Linked DNA regions of Homo sapiens. The protein of the gene in region 1 interacts with the protein of each later gene in a pairwise test. Each region holds a gene or a part of one and is shown on either strand. Other genes may lie near its edges.

Region 1 (7,694 bases):
GGACCAAGACCACAGGCTATGGGATAAAATGGGCATCTATGCCAGAGATTTATTATGGTCCTTTCTGCTGTGCAACCCAGATAAACTAAGAGAAATATTTAGGGAGGCGGCTTGGCATGGTGGCTCACACCTATAATCCCAGCACTTTGGGAGGTCAAGGTGGGCAAATCACTTGGCACTTGAGGTCAGGAGTTCGAGACCAGCTTGGCCCAAGTGCTTCTGAAACCCCGTCTCTACTAAAAAAATACAAAAATGAGCTGGGTGTGGTGGCAGGTGCCTGTAATCGCAGCTACTCGGGAGGCTAAGGCAGGAGAATCGCTTGAATCAGGGATAGCGCCACTGCACTCCAGCCTGGGCAACAGAGTGAGACTCCATCTTTAAAAAAAAAAAAGAAAAGAAAATATTTAGGGAGACTAATTTAAGGGTGAGAAGGCCATTTCTGCAACGGATAGAGCAGTAAAAAGAATCTACCTTTGAGACAACAATGTTTTAGTTACTAGAAATATTATGGGCTGGGCGCAGTGGCTCATGCCTGTAAGCTCAGCACTTTGGGAGGCCGAGGCGGGTGGATCACCTGAGCTCAGGAGTTCGAGAGCAGCCTGGCCAACATGGTGAAACCCTGTCTCTACTTTAAAAAAAAAAAAAAAAAAAAAAAAGGCCGGGTGTGGTGGCAGATGCCTGTAATCCCAGCTACTCCAGAGGCTGAGGCAGGAGAATCACTTGAACCTGGGAGGTGGAGGTTGCACTGAGCTGAGATAGCGCCACTGCACTCCAGCCTGGTGACAGAGCGCAATACTTGGTCTCAAAAAAAAAAAAAAAAAAAAAAAAAAAAAAAGAAAGGCAAGAATTGCAATGGTTCAAGGGTTATTATTTAGGAAAGCTGTTGATAATGATCTCAGAGGAATCTTTAAAATTCATGCAAAAACAAAAGTGATTCTGCTTACGGTCAATGTAAGTCAAGGAATGGATGGTATTTATCATTTTTTGTGATAAATGCCAAGAACATAAGACGCTTGTACTCTGACTTCAAGAACTCTTTAAGGATCACGCTATCTGCGCATATGAATATGATAAAAAGGCTTGGTGCTGATGGCTACTGTTCTGTCTGACCAAATCTTGTATCTATTTCTACTTTCCCATTTTAAACTTTGAACCCTTAATCTCCTCCTAAGGTGTATTGTAAATCAGAGTAGAGAATAAATACATGAACAGAAACACTCACCAGGGATTTATTCATTTTCTGCTGCTCTTGGAAAAATCTGGAGGACTGTGAAAGCGGAGGCAGATCTGGGGAAGGAAAACCCAAGCCATGGCGTTATGAGCGGTCTGGCCTGCCAAGGCGGTCATCTCCCGCCCAAAACCTACACAGAAAGTTCCAAGAAGTACATCTTGTGGGAGACTGTCCCTTTAAGCCTTCAGAAGGGATTGGAAAATGATCAGGAGGGGGACCGATCTGCACATTTGAAACTCACACATGGCTACCTTGTGACTGAGTGGATGAGATTCTCATGGTGAATGAATACTGGATCCTACTGAAATAATCTGCCATCATTAAATGCAAGATTTAAAAAGGAATTCTGGTGACCAGCCTGGCCAACATGGTGAAACCCCATGTCTAGTAAAAATACAAAAATTAGCTGGGCGTGGTGGCGGGCGCCTGTAACCCCAGCTACTCGGGAGGCTGAGGCAGGAGAATCGCTTGAACCCGGGAGGCGGAGGTTGCAGTGAGCTGGGATGGCACCATTGCACTCCAGCCTGGGCAACAAAGCGAAACTTGTCTCAAAAACAAACAAACAAACAAACAAAAAACAAACAACAAAAAATGAATTCTGTAATACTCATCTATTTTCTTACTCTTTTAAATAAAGATCAGAAAATCCACAGGATGCCCTAAATAAAGGAATACAGTCGGCATAATTGAGTCTTTATTTGCAGAAACTTCAGTGTGCTACTCAAAAGGATCTTTTATTGAAGAACTTACGCTCACTTAACTAGGATACGGGGGACAGAACACTGGCCTGGGAGATAAAACTCCAGAGTTCTACTATGAGCAACTCCACCCACAAAACCTCGGACAAGTCACCCACCTGCTAAGGCCCTTCCCCTAGCAAATGAGGCAGCAAGAGATAGTTCCTGCAGGCTGTTCCTGCACTACAACGTATGATTCCACAAGAGCAGACCTAAGGGGGAATCAGCACTTAAATGAGAGAACAGAGGTGCTGACGGACGTTTAGATACGGTAGCAATCTGGAGCAGAGAGAGGAGGAAGGGCTGCTGGGGTGAGGGGGGAGTGGAGACAACGTCCGCAGCTGAGGCTGGTGACACCCCCCACGCCCCCGTAAGCCTCGTCCTCGCCGGACCCTGCCTTCAAACCCAAACACACGTCACTCCTGCAAGCGATCGAGACCTTCCACTGTCCCTCACTCTAAGGTGCCCTACACGCGGTGACTTCACCCAGGCCCTTCTCGCCCCGGGCCCGCAAACCCACGACTTACCCTCCTGGGGCTCCGCAGCCTCTGCCCCACCGCTCCCGACAGGCCGGGGCGGGATTGCTGTCGCGGGCGCGCGTCTGCTCGCGAGGTCCCTTCCTGTCCACCTCACCAAGGCCGTTCTGCTCCAGAGGGGCCCGGGCCGGGCCTACGGGACAAATCCAGGCGGGGCGTCCCTCCCGGAGCCCAGATCCGTCTCCCTGGGGCTCACCGTCCTGCGGAGCCGGGGCCGGGCCGTCGAGGACGCACACGGGCCGGGCCCGGGTCCCGCCGCCCCTTCGCCTCCGCCGTCGTCACCGCCCGGCCGGCCCCTTGGGCCCCAGCGCCGTCGGCTCCGGGGGTCGTGCTCGGGGATCCCCGCTTGAGCCTCCGCCTGGCCCGCACAGCCCCGCGCCCGCTTGGGTGCCGGCCCGGCTCTTCGGCGCCCAGCCCCGCAGGCTCCGCGATTCTCGCCCACCGGAGGCCAAAGCCTGGGAACTAGGGCGAGCGGTGACCTGGGGACGCACAGGAAGCGAGGGCACTGCGGCCGCGGCGCGCATGCGCGAACACGCACACAGAGAGGGGTGCACATGCGCAGGAATGCACCGGAAGTCCGCCTCCCGGGACCCGCCGCCGGTCCCAGGACAAATACCGTGACTCTATTTCCCATGAGCCTACGCGCTCCCCAAATTTAGGAGCCATTTGAAATGTCTCTATCTGGTCTAGCGGTTAAGAGGCTCTATGCTAAGAGAATTGGCAACGCCGAACCCCAGACTCAAATTTCTCCTTAGTTTAAGGGAACGTCTTCATGGGGATGTCTTGACTATCTTTAAGGGAACGTCTAGAAAGTCTCTGCTTCCTGTAGCATCTCGTAGACCATGCCTGGGCCAGTCCTGCCTTACCGGAGAGCTCAAGGCTTAAAATCAATGTCCATGTGCAACCGTGACAAATGGAACAAGAGGGTGCATCATGCTAGCTTATGATCACAATGACACATTTAACGAAAACTTCAGTAAATAGAGCCCATGGATGAAATAATAGAGGATTAGCCTGGGACAGGATACCATCCTCGCCCCAACAAGGAGAAAAAGAATTCCAGCTTTTCCAAATCACTTTGAATTAGTGATAGCTAGAAAACTCAGAGAATATGTACAGAATTGAAAGAAGAAAAAAATTAGCCAGAACTCTACTTCCTGAAGAGGATGAGGCAAGCAGAAGAAGAAATTTGCGTCTTAATGGAAAACGAAGCACATTTAGAAAGCCATGTTACTTGATTCCAACCCTGTTCCTTATCTTTGAGGTATTTTACACCTCTTTGAAAACTGTAGGTAATCGATGCAAGTTATGTTCTGTCTGGTGGAAGTTGGTTGACTTCCCACAATCCCCACTAGAGAAAATGCAGTTTTGACTGCATTTCTCCATTTACATAATCATTTCAATATTCCTGATCTGAAAATATGTCTGTTTCTCAGATTCTCTCTCTCTCTCTCTTTTTTTTTTTAATTTTGAGACAGGGTCTCACTCTGCTGTGCATGCTGGAGTTCAGTGGCGAGATCTTGGCTCACTGGTTCAAGGAATTCTCCTGCCTCAGCCTCCCAAGTAACTGGGATTACAGGTGCACACCACCAAGCCCGACTAATTTTTGAATTTTTAGTAGAGATGGGGGTTTCACCATGTTGGCCAGGCTGGTCTTAAACTCCTGACCTCAAGTGATCCACCCGCCTCAGCCTCCCAAAGTGCTGGGATTACAGGCATGAGCCACCATGTCCAGCCCTCAGATTCTCTTTTGAACCAGTTATAATATCTGCCTGTTTCCTCTTGAATTAAATAAAATCTTTAGCATGTGCTCATTTTTATATCTGTATCAGAGTCATGATTTTACTTTTATGTTTTAAGGTTTTCCAGGTCTTTGCAGAAGTCCCTGATGGAATCACATGACTGAGCCAGGAAAACCTCAGGACTGGAGTGCCTCATGAACTGTTGAAGCCCAGGTGAATCTTTTCTTGGCTCCCAGGAATGAGTCCAAAGTGCCAGTAGAAATTTGCTGGCTTCTCATTTTTCAGTAATTTCCCCATTTACCAATCCTGTGTTTTACTTTGGTTTGCATTTGTTTACATTGCTAGCATCACTGATTGGGACTTTGTTTGTTTTTGTTGTTTCAAGGCAAAGTCTCACTCTGCCGCCCAGGCTGGAGTGCAGGGGTACGATCTCGGCTCACTGCAACTTCTGCCTCCCAAGTTCAAGTGATTCTCCTGCCTCAACCTCCTGAGTAGCTGGGACTATAGGTGCATGCCACCATGCCCGACTAATTTTTGTATTTTTAGTAGAGACGGGGTTTTTCCATGTTGGCCAGACTGGTCTCGAACTCCTGACCTCAGGTGGTAGACTCGCCTCAGCTTCCCAAAGTGGTGGGATTACAGGCGTGAAGCACCGCGCTGGGCTAGGAATTTGGTTTTATGGTCTGATCACATGGTGATCTCTGTAATGAGATTAATGTTTGCAAAGACCTAATCTCTGTTGGGTGAGAGACATCAGAGTCTGATTTGTTATTCTATTTCTCTGTCTATTTTGAGCTGAAATCAATTAAGAATTTCATGCCCACTGGGAGGAGAAGAGCTCTTTCATATCTGGAAGGGTGAGTTTTTGCATTTTTGTGTTTACTCTTGACCCATGTCTGAAATTTTAGAATTGAAGCTGTAAGCTCTATTTCTTTGTATGTCTGTGTGTCTGTAATTTAGAAAGGTCTTTACCTCTGATTGTGTGAGTGTCTAATGTTTTTCCACCTCTGAATGGTATTATAGTAGATATAGAGTTTGTTTGTTTGTTTTTGAGACAGGGTCTCACTCTGTCGTCCAGGCTGAAGTGCAGTGTGTGCGATCACGGATCACTGCAGCTTCAACCTACCTGGGCTCAGGTGTTCCTCCCACCTCAGCCTCCCAATTAGCTGGGACTGCAGGTGTGTACCACCATACCCAACTAATTTTCGTATTCTCTATAGAGATGGGGTTTTGCCATGTTGCCCAGGATGGTCTCGAACTTCTGGGCTCAAGCGATCTGATCACCTCAGCCTCCCAAAGTGCTGGGATTACAGGCATGAGCCACAATATAGAGTCTTTAAAGGTTTGCTGTTCTGATTGGCTTGTAGAGGTGTGTATGTACTTATATAAATTGAATTTGCCCAAATTCTTAGAAAAAAAGAGAAATTGAACTTCTGTTGCTTTAATGTGCTAGAAAGGTATTTTTTACTGAAACCAAATCAAATGTTTTGGAAATGCGAGTCCGCATGTAGTCCACATATATGTTACCGAGCAGTCAATGCACTCGCTGCCCAGTGTGTACAGAGGCCAATACCATGGCTCCAGCTTTTGAGAAATAAAGCCTTTTTGTAAGTCAACTAGCAAGGACACAGGAGGAAATGCTCAAATCTCCCTTTCCCAGCTGGGGGCTATGTCAGGTTTTGTACGCATAGGGTAAGGAGATGTGATTTGATTGGATCTTGAGATGAAGTAATTAATGCTGGGAGGTGTGATCTGACTGGATCCTGCCATGGAGTGACACCAAAACTCAATCTCATTGGTTCCTGGCTCCTGCCACAGGGTGTCCGGTTCTTAAATGGGTCCCAGCTCCTCAGTCCGAGCACTTAGGTTCCACTTCGTGGTTGCATGCTTGGTTAATCTGGGCATGCTCAGAGTATATGACCTTCAACCCACGGATCCATGGCAGTTGAAAAACAACTGCCAACTACATTACATAAAAGTTGAAATGGACGTGGAGTGTGGTGGCTCACACCTGTAATCCCAGCACTTTGGGAAGCTGAGGCAGGCAGATCACGAGGTCAGGAGTTCCAGCCCAGCCTGGCCAATATGGTGAAACCCCGCCTCTACTAAAAATACAAAAATTATCCAGGGGTGGTGATGCGCTGAGGCAGGAGAATCTCTTGAACCCAGGAGGCGGAGGTTCCAGTGAACCGAGATCGCGCCATTAAACTGCAACCTGGGTGACAAGAGCAAAACTCCGTCAAAAAAAAAAAAAAACTTGAACTAGATTTAGTCTGATGCAGTTCCAGATTTACAAACCGTGTCCCCACCCTCCTGCCGACACCTTCCACTCCTCATTCTTGAGGGATTAGGGATGGAGGTCATGCTTCTGTATCTACTTCATGCTGACCAGAGGCACTGAGTCCCCTAAAGTTAGAGGAATGAAACTCTTGGGCTGCTGAGTTCAAATGAGTTTTGGGGTCACCCAGAATTGCTTGAAGGGCTGGTATTGTTGTGGTAATACAAGCTGAAGGTGGAAGTGTTGGAGCCGGGAGGACAAACAGCTCACCATCAATTTAAATAAACAGGACTGAAAAGTACCAGGAGAACAGTGGCCACGAGGGGCCCCAACAGAGGAAGAAACCAGGTGAGGTGCGGTATAGTGGACTCGACTGCTTTCTAAATCTCAGTGGTTGGCCAGGCACTGTGGCTCATGCCTGTAATCTTAGCAAAAGGGAGGCCGAGGCAGGCGGGTCACCTGAGCTCAGGAGTTGGAGACCAGCCTGGCCAACATGGTGAAGTCCCATCTCTACTAAAAATACAAAAATTAGCCAGGCATGGTGGCATGTGCTGTAGTCCCAGCTAATCGGGAGGCTGAGGCAGGAGAATTGCTTGAACCCGGGAGGCGGAGGTTGCAGTGAGCCTCCAGCCTGGGTGACAGAGCGAGACTCTGTCTCTAAATAAATAAACAAATAAATAAATCTCGGTGGTTCAACTACCCTTGATACAGTTTGGCTCTGTGTCACCACCCAAATCTCATGTCAAATTGTAATTCCCAGTGTTGAGGGAGGGAGCTGGTGGGAGGTGATTGGCTCATGGGGACCATCTTCCCCCGTGCTGTTCTCTTGGTAGTGAGTGAGCCCTCGTGGGATCTGGTTGTTGAAAAGCGTGCATCACCTCCCGCTTCATTCTCTCTGTCTCTCCCGCTCCACCATAGCCAGACGTGCCTGCTTCCACTTCGCCTTCTGCCATGACTGTCCGTTTCCTGAGGCCTCCCCAGCCATGCTTCCTGTACGGCCTGCAGAACTGTGAGTCAATTAAACCTCTTTTCTTCATAAATTAACCAGTTTCAGGTAGTTCTTTATAGCAGTATGAAAACAGACTAATGGACCCTTCTGGTTGAAGGAATGCAGCCATTCTGCTAGTTTGACTATTTCCTTTCTATTCATCTCTATTTCCCGGGAGGTGT
Region 2 (7,477 bases), on another chromosome or scaffold:
TCCCCCACGTATGCATCTTCAAAAGGGGCTCTGCTCCACCAGCAGACGGGCAAAATTTAGACATTATCAAGAGGCCACCAAAGGAAAAGGTGAGGAAACTCAGGATGCCAGATCAGATACAATGACCCTCCTGGATCCAAGGAAAGGAAAACGTCTTCAAGCAAGAGCCTCCAACTAAAGCAGCCCATCCAAGCCCCTACCCAGTAACCTCACCGTCAAGACAAGACCCCTCTGAGAACTTCTGGAGGCTGGTGGAGACCTACCCACCCTCCCTGACCAGGCACCACCACCCGCCTGCAGGCTGCAGGATTGAGATTCCACCAGCCAAAGCAGCCCTTTTCCTCCCCTTTGTTGGCTTTAGAAAGAAACTAAGACTGGCTTGTCCAAAGAAAACCAAAACATCTGCCTGAAATATTCAAATATTTAGGGGAAAAAAGGGGAAAATCCCTCTTTGGGGGATTTTTTCTTGGGAAAAAAGAGAAGCCAGAAATGAGATCCTGGGACAACTAAGCAACTCTGTTTTTTGCTTTTCTGAGCACCACGCCACCATGATCATTGAGTACTGTGTGCACTGCCAAAGAAGCACTGATCAGGGGGCTAGTGGACACTGAACACCTGTCTGCCAATCCGTTGCCTGGGCATGGGGATCCATCTGCCCAGAAGGGAACACCTTTTGTGAATTCATACAAAGGCACCCTACAGGTTAGCATGGGCTACCTATTACCGATGTTAGTCATGTTTGGATAACATAGGAAGAATAAAAACATTGACAGTGAGAAGGGTCCATGTTTTTATCTGGATTCCTTAGAATCAGATCCTGAGATAAGAATTCCTATGAAAGTGTATTAGGAGATATTCCTAGGAAAAAATGGTAGGGATGTGAAGAAGTAAAACAAGAAAAAGTAGCAAGCCAAGCGAGGGAAACAAGCCAAGCAAAGAACCATAGAGGTCAATTTGACACAACTCCACATTGGATCTCTGGAAACAAAGGATGTCATGCTTCAGAGTGTCCCAATCAAGGGCAAAGAAGCTGGACTATTTATACTCCAGCACCCATCAGTCATTGAGGAGGGGCTGCCCCAGGGGAGATGTAAATTCCCAGGCACTCCCTGTTCTGAGTCCCTACAAACATAGGCTCTGCCGCCCAAGGGTCATCCTCCAACAAAGAGATGGAGGGACTGGCAATTGGAAGTGAAGGCACCCAGGGTACCAATACGCACCAAGATGGCAAAGCTCACCATAAAAGAACATGACTCAAAAATCTTTCAAACCTAAATGAAAGGAGTTACAGAACATCTTTCAGAAAACACTTTCTGCCCCTCTTTGTTCTTTCTTCAGTGAAGCAATTTAAATATTAAATTGAAATGCTTTTCTAAAGTTGGGCTGTGAGGCAAACCCAATACTCTTTTCTTTTTTTTTTTCTTCCTGAGGGTCTTGCTTCTTGCTACTTTATCCTAAGGATAAGCACAATGCTTGCCTATTGCTGTAGATGCCTCATTGATCAAGATCATTAGCTCAACATCAGCCCAACAGATCTCCACTGTAAGCAGTTACACAGACACTTCACAGCTCCTAATACAATCATCAAAGTGCAGGGCCACCTAATTAATGCCAAGAGGTTTTATGACAGCCAATGATGAAGGTGGGACCCTGCTTCAATTTAACAGCTGTCATCTTGGACAATACATCAAGGAAAGGAAATGGAATCAACTAGGAGGGGGTGAGGTGGAGGAATGACTAACTGTTAGGATTGAATAACAACGGAGTTCCCTCCACAACTTCTCACACACTTCCCCCCTCCCAGCAGGCAGATACTCTGAAAAGGTGTCCCCAGACGCCTCTGCCAAGGACTGGCACAGCCTTCTCCCTTCCTCACCACACCTCGCCCCCAGGGCCAGACATGGAAAGGAGTGTAAATGTGATCCTATATTTGAAATTAATTGATAGGATATTTCACGAGCTCAGATTTTTTTATATTAATTCCCAAATGCTCTGCCTGTATCCTTTTTCCTAATCATCTTTGGTTCTTCTGTGTTTCTTTAGTTCTAAGGAGGGTTTCTTGTCATTTAGATGGGTCAGAGACCTCTAGAGACCTGGATCCAACTCCAGCTCCGCTGCTATGGAGCCGTGTGACCCTGGGCAAGGCACGAGCTCTGTGGGCCTCAGTTTTCTCATCTGAGAAATGGGGATAATTCCATTCTTTACAGATTTGTGGAGAGGATGAAATACGCTTAACTCTAGGTGAAGCGCTTGGCATGTTGAGTTGCACAATAAATGTCAGCTCCCTCCCTGCGCCTTCTCCCTTCTGCAGCCTCACCGCACCTGCACCTTGAAAGACACCCAGTGCGTTTCCCAGGAAGGGCCCCCCTGCTGGCGAGGGAAATAAAATCAGCTCCGGAGAGCGTTATTCCCCTAGAAAGCAGGTTTCAGGTGGTGTACACCCGCACGCGCGCGCGTTTACACACACGTACACACACATACACACGTACACACACATACACACACACAGTCCTCCGTACACCCACGCGGGGTCTGGCACTGCTGCTACATCCCGCACGGAGCGGGGTCCAGAGTTAGGGCGAATGAGTCCTCCCGCCCCCGCCAAGGTGGCGCCCAGAACGGGTCGGTGCCGGAGCGCACGGTACTCACCCGGGGCAGGCCGCGCCGGGCAGGCTGGGGCTGGCCGGGCCGGGGGCGGCGGCGGCTGCGGGGCTGGAGTGGCGGCGGGCATGGCGCGGCGGCGGGCTCGGGGAGAGCCTGGAGCAGAGGTGGCAGCGCGGGGACGCGGCTCGACGGTCGAGCAGGCGCGGGAAGGCGGGGCGAGACGAGCAGCCACGAGCCCGCGCCGACTCTCCCTCTTCTCTCCCTCCCGCCGCCCGCCGCCCGCCTGCCAGCCCCGCGCCGCGCAGCGCCCGGCGACAGCCACCGGGAACGTCTCCGGGGGCGCGGGACTTAGCAACCGCGCACCAGCTGCAGCCGCCCTCTCTGCGCCGGTCCCGCCATGCGCGCCGCTCCTGGCCCTGGAGGCCGGGCGGGGCCGGGCTTTGAACTTGCTCCCACACCCCCTGCTTCTCCAGTGAGCGCCCAAAGGCGGTCCCGCCTCTCCCCGGTCAGCGGAGTCCAGCCTTTCTGCTCTCCTTCCCCGCGCAGTTCCGCGGTGGAACCTGGCTGCGCTGGGTTTTGAACGTGCGCTTTGCCCCTGTTCTCTGTGGGTGGGTGGCAGCCCAAAGGCGACCCCAGGACCACCAGCCATCCTCGTGCCTCCCTGCAGGGCAGGGGCCAGACTTTCCACACCACTTCCTTCCTCCTATCCCATTCCCGCTCCTTGGATACACTGACCGTAGGTCCCAGGGCCGTTCTACTCTAACACCCTTGTTGCCCCCCAGATTCAGAGACCTGCTTACACTCTGGTCCACACCCATGGTCTCAAAGACTTAGGCTGCAAAACGTTCCTCCAGCCTAGTGGCTTCTTGGTACCATCTGAAGGCAGCTCGATGGCCCCTTGCTTTGTTGTACCTCTTCCCAGCACCACACACCTGTTCCTCATATTTGCAGGTCCCTCAGGTCTGCAGTGCGGGGTCTGGGGACCCATATTCCCGGGTACTGACTCCCAGATCTCTCCTGCGTCAGATAATAAATTCACTGGATCAGCCATACCCTTCTCTCCACAGGGCCGTTGACATGATTACAGAGTGGTCTGGCTTTTGCCTTTATCAATCAAGTCACAAAGTGGTCTTGTCTGTTGGGTCTGATGTTGCTGTTCTGTGAAATTGTTTATGCTCAACAGAACGCCAAGGCCGAGCTGATAGAACCAGACCAGCTCCCAGATGGCAGGGGCTGTCTTTCTCTTTATCACACATAACAAGAAGCCTGGAAGAAGGCTCCTCTGTGTGTGTTCAGCTGCTCAGGGATGACGTTAAGGACTCAGTCTCTTTCCATGATTCCACATGGCCACCTTCAACATCTTGCCTTTTCTCCTCAGACTTGTTGCCTCAAGGTTCCAAAATGGCTGCAACAGCCATGCCATGATGCTGCTGTGCAAAAAATAACTCCTGGTTCTAGCTGGTTTGTTGGCCAGGTACTCTGAAGTCATCATCAAGGACAGTTTTCAGCAATCCAGTTCACCAATGGTGAACACAACAAATGCCCTGCCTTCAAGTCACTCACCTTCTAGTAGGGGGAGACAGATAATAAAATACACAAGTATGGTGATAAATAGTATGAAGAAAAATGAACCAAGAAAAAGGGAATGTGATTATGTAAGTTGAGTGGTTGGGAAAGGTAACATTTGAGTAAAAACCCGAAGGAAGAACCTATTGGAAATCTCTCTGGGAGACAAGTGTCCTTGAGATACTTACACACTTTCTTTTTAAAATCACTTACTTTTCTCTTTAACAGCCACTCTTCCTGGCCCTATCACCTATATTTTAGGAGAAAATAAAAGTTAAATAAACTGAGTTTTAGTAAAAAGGTTTAAGCTTTGTAAAGGAGAGATCAGATGACTTGTGTTTTCTTCCTTGCAAAAGCAGCAATCTCACAGTGTTTAATTATTGGCTGGATTATCATGATTTAAATACGAACTAGATATACACATATCAAGCAATCACAATGAACACCTTAAGTTATCAGATTACTTCACAAGAGTGAGGGATATATCTTGTTGAATATTGGCAAAGAAATTGCTAATTGCCTACTCAACACCTATTTTCATTTCTGATCCGGTATTTTAAAAAAAATGTTTTTTAGCTAAGCATACTACCACCTGCAATTTAAAAAAAATACATTTTCTAGCCTCCCTTGCAGCAAGGAGTGATGATATGAAAAGTTTCTGGCCAATGAAATATAATTGTAAGTGTTGTATTGGATTTTCAGTAGATGCCTTAAAGATGCTGATTTGGCTGACAGATGCACTCCTTTGTCCCTTTTCCTTCGTCCTGGAATCCAGGTATAATGATGTGGTAGGTGAGATTATTAATTTCAGTTATTCACTCCATTCCTCAATTGAATTGGACAATCCACCCTTTATGGTACTTGGAGTGTGTTTCCCTGTACCTTGACTTTAGGCTTGGCCATCTTTCTTTTTCTTTCTTTTCTTTTTTGTTTTGTTTTGTTTTTAACTTTAAACAATTTTTTATTACACAAAGGTTGTCACATAATTGGATATTTCTCTACTTTGTACATAATTATTCTCACCCTCCACAGAAAGTCTGCTTAACTTCTCATCTGGTGGTGGCAAGCACTAAAATCCTGATTTTAACAGAATAGTAGTAAAAATGCCTCAGTTATTTAAGTTGAAGGCAGTACATTGGTACATGACTCTTGTACCCAATATCAGGAATGTACAAATGTCTTTTTATTCAAAAATACAAAATAAAGTATTGATAGGCATGGACAATGACAGCAGTAAACCATTATATATTTTGTCAACTGAACCAGTAACTGATGGTTATAATGATTTCTTAAACATCAGCCAGCCTTTTCTTCATTTTCTCCAACTGACTTCTCTGAAGTTATTGGTGAGGAACACTGCCTTGACTTCCTGTCACAGTTCATTAATAAAAGTAAAGCACTATTCTAGGAGTTACAACATGCCCCCTCCCATACCACATCCCATTCCACCCATTGCACCCATTCCAGGGTCCTTCTCTTCTTTAGGAATTTCTGTGACTACAACTTCTGCTGTAGTTAACAGAGAGGCCACACCAGCAGCATCCAATAAAGCAGTTCTCACAACCTTTCTTGGGTCAATAATTCCTTTTCCCACCATATTCACAAAATCTCCGACCCTAGTAGCATCATAACCAACTTCTGAGGAACGTTGCATAATTTTCTCAACTATCGAAGATCCTTCAACACCTGCATTCTTAGCAATGGTCATTGCTGGAATTTTGAGTGTTGTTTTGATTGTTTATATACCAATTAGTTTATCTTCATTAGCTGGAGTCAATGAGTCCAAGGCTGGAATGCACCAAAGCAGGGCACAACCCCCTCCCAAAACAATGCCTTCTTCAACAGCAGCTCTGGTAGCATTAAGGGCATCTGTAACTCTGTCTTTCTTTTCATTCGCTTCAACATCACTTGTCCCACCAACCTTTGGCATAGCTATCCCATCTGAAAGTTTTGCCAGTCATTCAGTTTTTCCTTTTCATATTCACTAGTTGTGACATCTAACTGCTCAATGATTTCTTGAATATGTTTTTCAATTTGAGCATTGCCACCTTTTCCTTTTAAGAGCATGGCATCATCTTTGGTCACAATGACCTCTCCAACTTTTCCTAAGTCATGAGGCTGAACATCTTCAAAATGTAGGATCAACCCCTCTTCTCCAAACACTGCACCAACAGTAGTAACAGCCATATCTTTGAGCTGGTTCTTTGTCACAAAACCCTGGAGCCTTGACTGCCACAACCTGAAAATCAATCTTTAGGCTGTTCAAGACAAGTGTACTTAGAGCTTCTCCACCAACATCTTCAGTGATTATGACCAAAGGCTTACGGTGAGCACTGGCAGTTTCAAGAGCAGGTACAATGGACTGGACACTAGAAATTTTCTTTTCACTCAACAGAACATATGCCTCCTGGAATTCACATTTCTGACCTTTTGATGTATTAATAAAGTATGGAGAAACATAGCCTCGATCAAACTTCAAGCTTTCAATAATTTCTAATCCATCATTCAGTGTTTTCCCATCCTTTACTGTTATGACACCCTTTCTTCCCACCTTTTTCACTGCATCAGAGAGGATATGGCCAATTTCTTTGTCTCCACTTGCAGAAATTGTAGCAACCTGCGCAATTTCTTCAGGGGTGGTCACAGGTTTAGACTGCTTTTTAGGTTCAGCTATTACAGCATCAACAGCTAACATCACACCTCTCCTGATTTCCACTGGATTAGCACCTTTGCTAATCTTCTCAAAGCCTTCCTTGGCAATAGAGCATGCCAGTACAGTAGCAGTGGTAGGGCCATCCCCAGCCTCTTCATTTGTGTTATTGGCAACATCTTGAACGAGTTTAGCTTCAATATTTTTATATTTATTCTTTAAGTCAATTGACTTTGCAACAGTCACACCATCTTTTGTTACTTTGGGACTTCCCCAGCTCTGCTCAATAATCACTGTTCTTCCCTTTGGCCCCATTGTAATGGCTACAGCATCGACTAAAAGGTCTACACCTTGAAGCATTAAGGCTCAGGCATCTGCACTGAATTTTACATCTTTGGCATAAGCCCGAGTGAGATGAGGAACCAATACCCTGGACAATGGTCTTATCTAAAGACAGTGGGGAACCGAAGCATTTCTGTGAGGTGGTGGCAGGGCATGCCCGGGGCGTGGCGAGGCAGGTCGGCAGTGAGTGAGGCCTTTTTTTTTTTAAGACTTAGTTTCGCTCTTGTTGCCCGGGCTGAAGTCCAATGGCGCAATCTCGGCTTGCTGCAACCTCTGCCTCCCAGGTTCAAGTGATTCTCCTGCCTCAGCCTCCTG

The links. Proteins that work in one complex are often made in the same cells at the same time.
Region 2: the proteins of ZNF12 (region 1) and DCLK3 interact in a two-hybrid assay, tested with the Homo sapiens proteins (one study listed by IntAct).

Annotation. Positions count from the first base shown.
Region 1 is NC_000007.14:6,703,937-6,711,630, forward strand, and holds the start of ZNF12 (zinc finger protein 12), read right to left. Parts: upstream 3,012-7,694; 5' UTR 2,496-3,011; intron 1,288-2,495; 5' UTR 1,238-1,287; coding exon 1,223-1,237; intron 1-1,222. UniProt on the Homo sapiens protein: Transcriptional repressor which suppresses activation protein 1 (AP-1)- and serum response element (SRE)-mediated transcriptional activity.
Region 2 is NC_000003.12:36,761,533-36,769,009, forward strand, and holds the start of DCLK3 (serine/threonine-protein kinase DCLK3), read right to left. Parts: upstream 3,022-7,477; 5' UTR 2,732-3,021; coding exon 2,650-2,731; intron 1-2,649.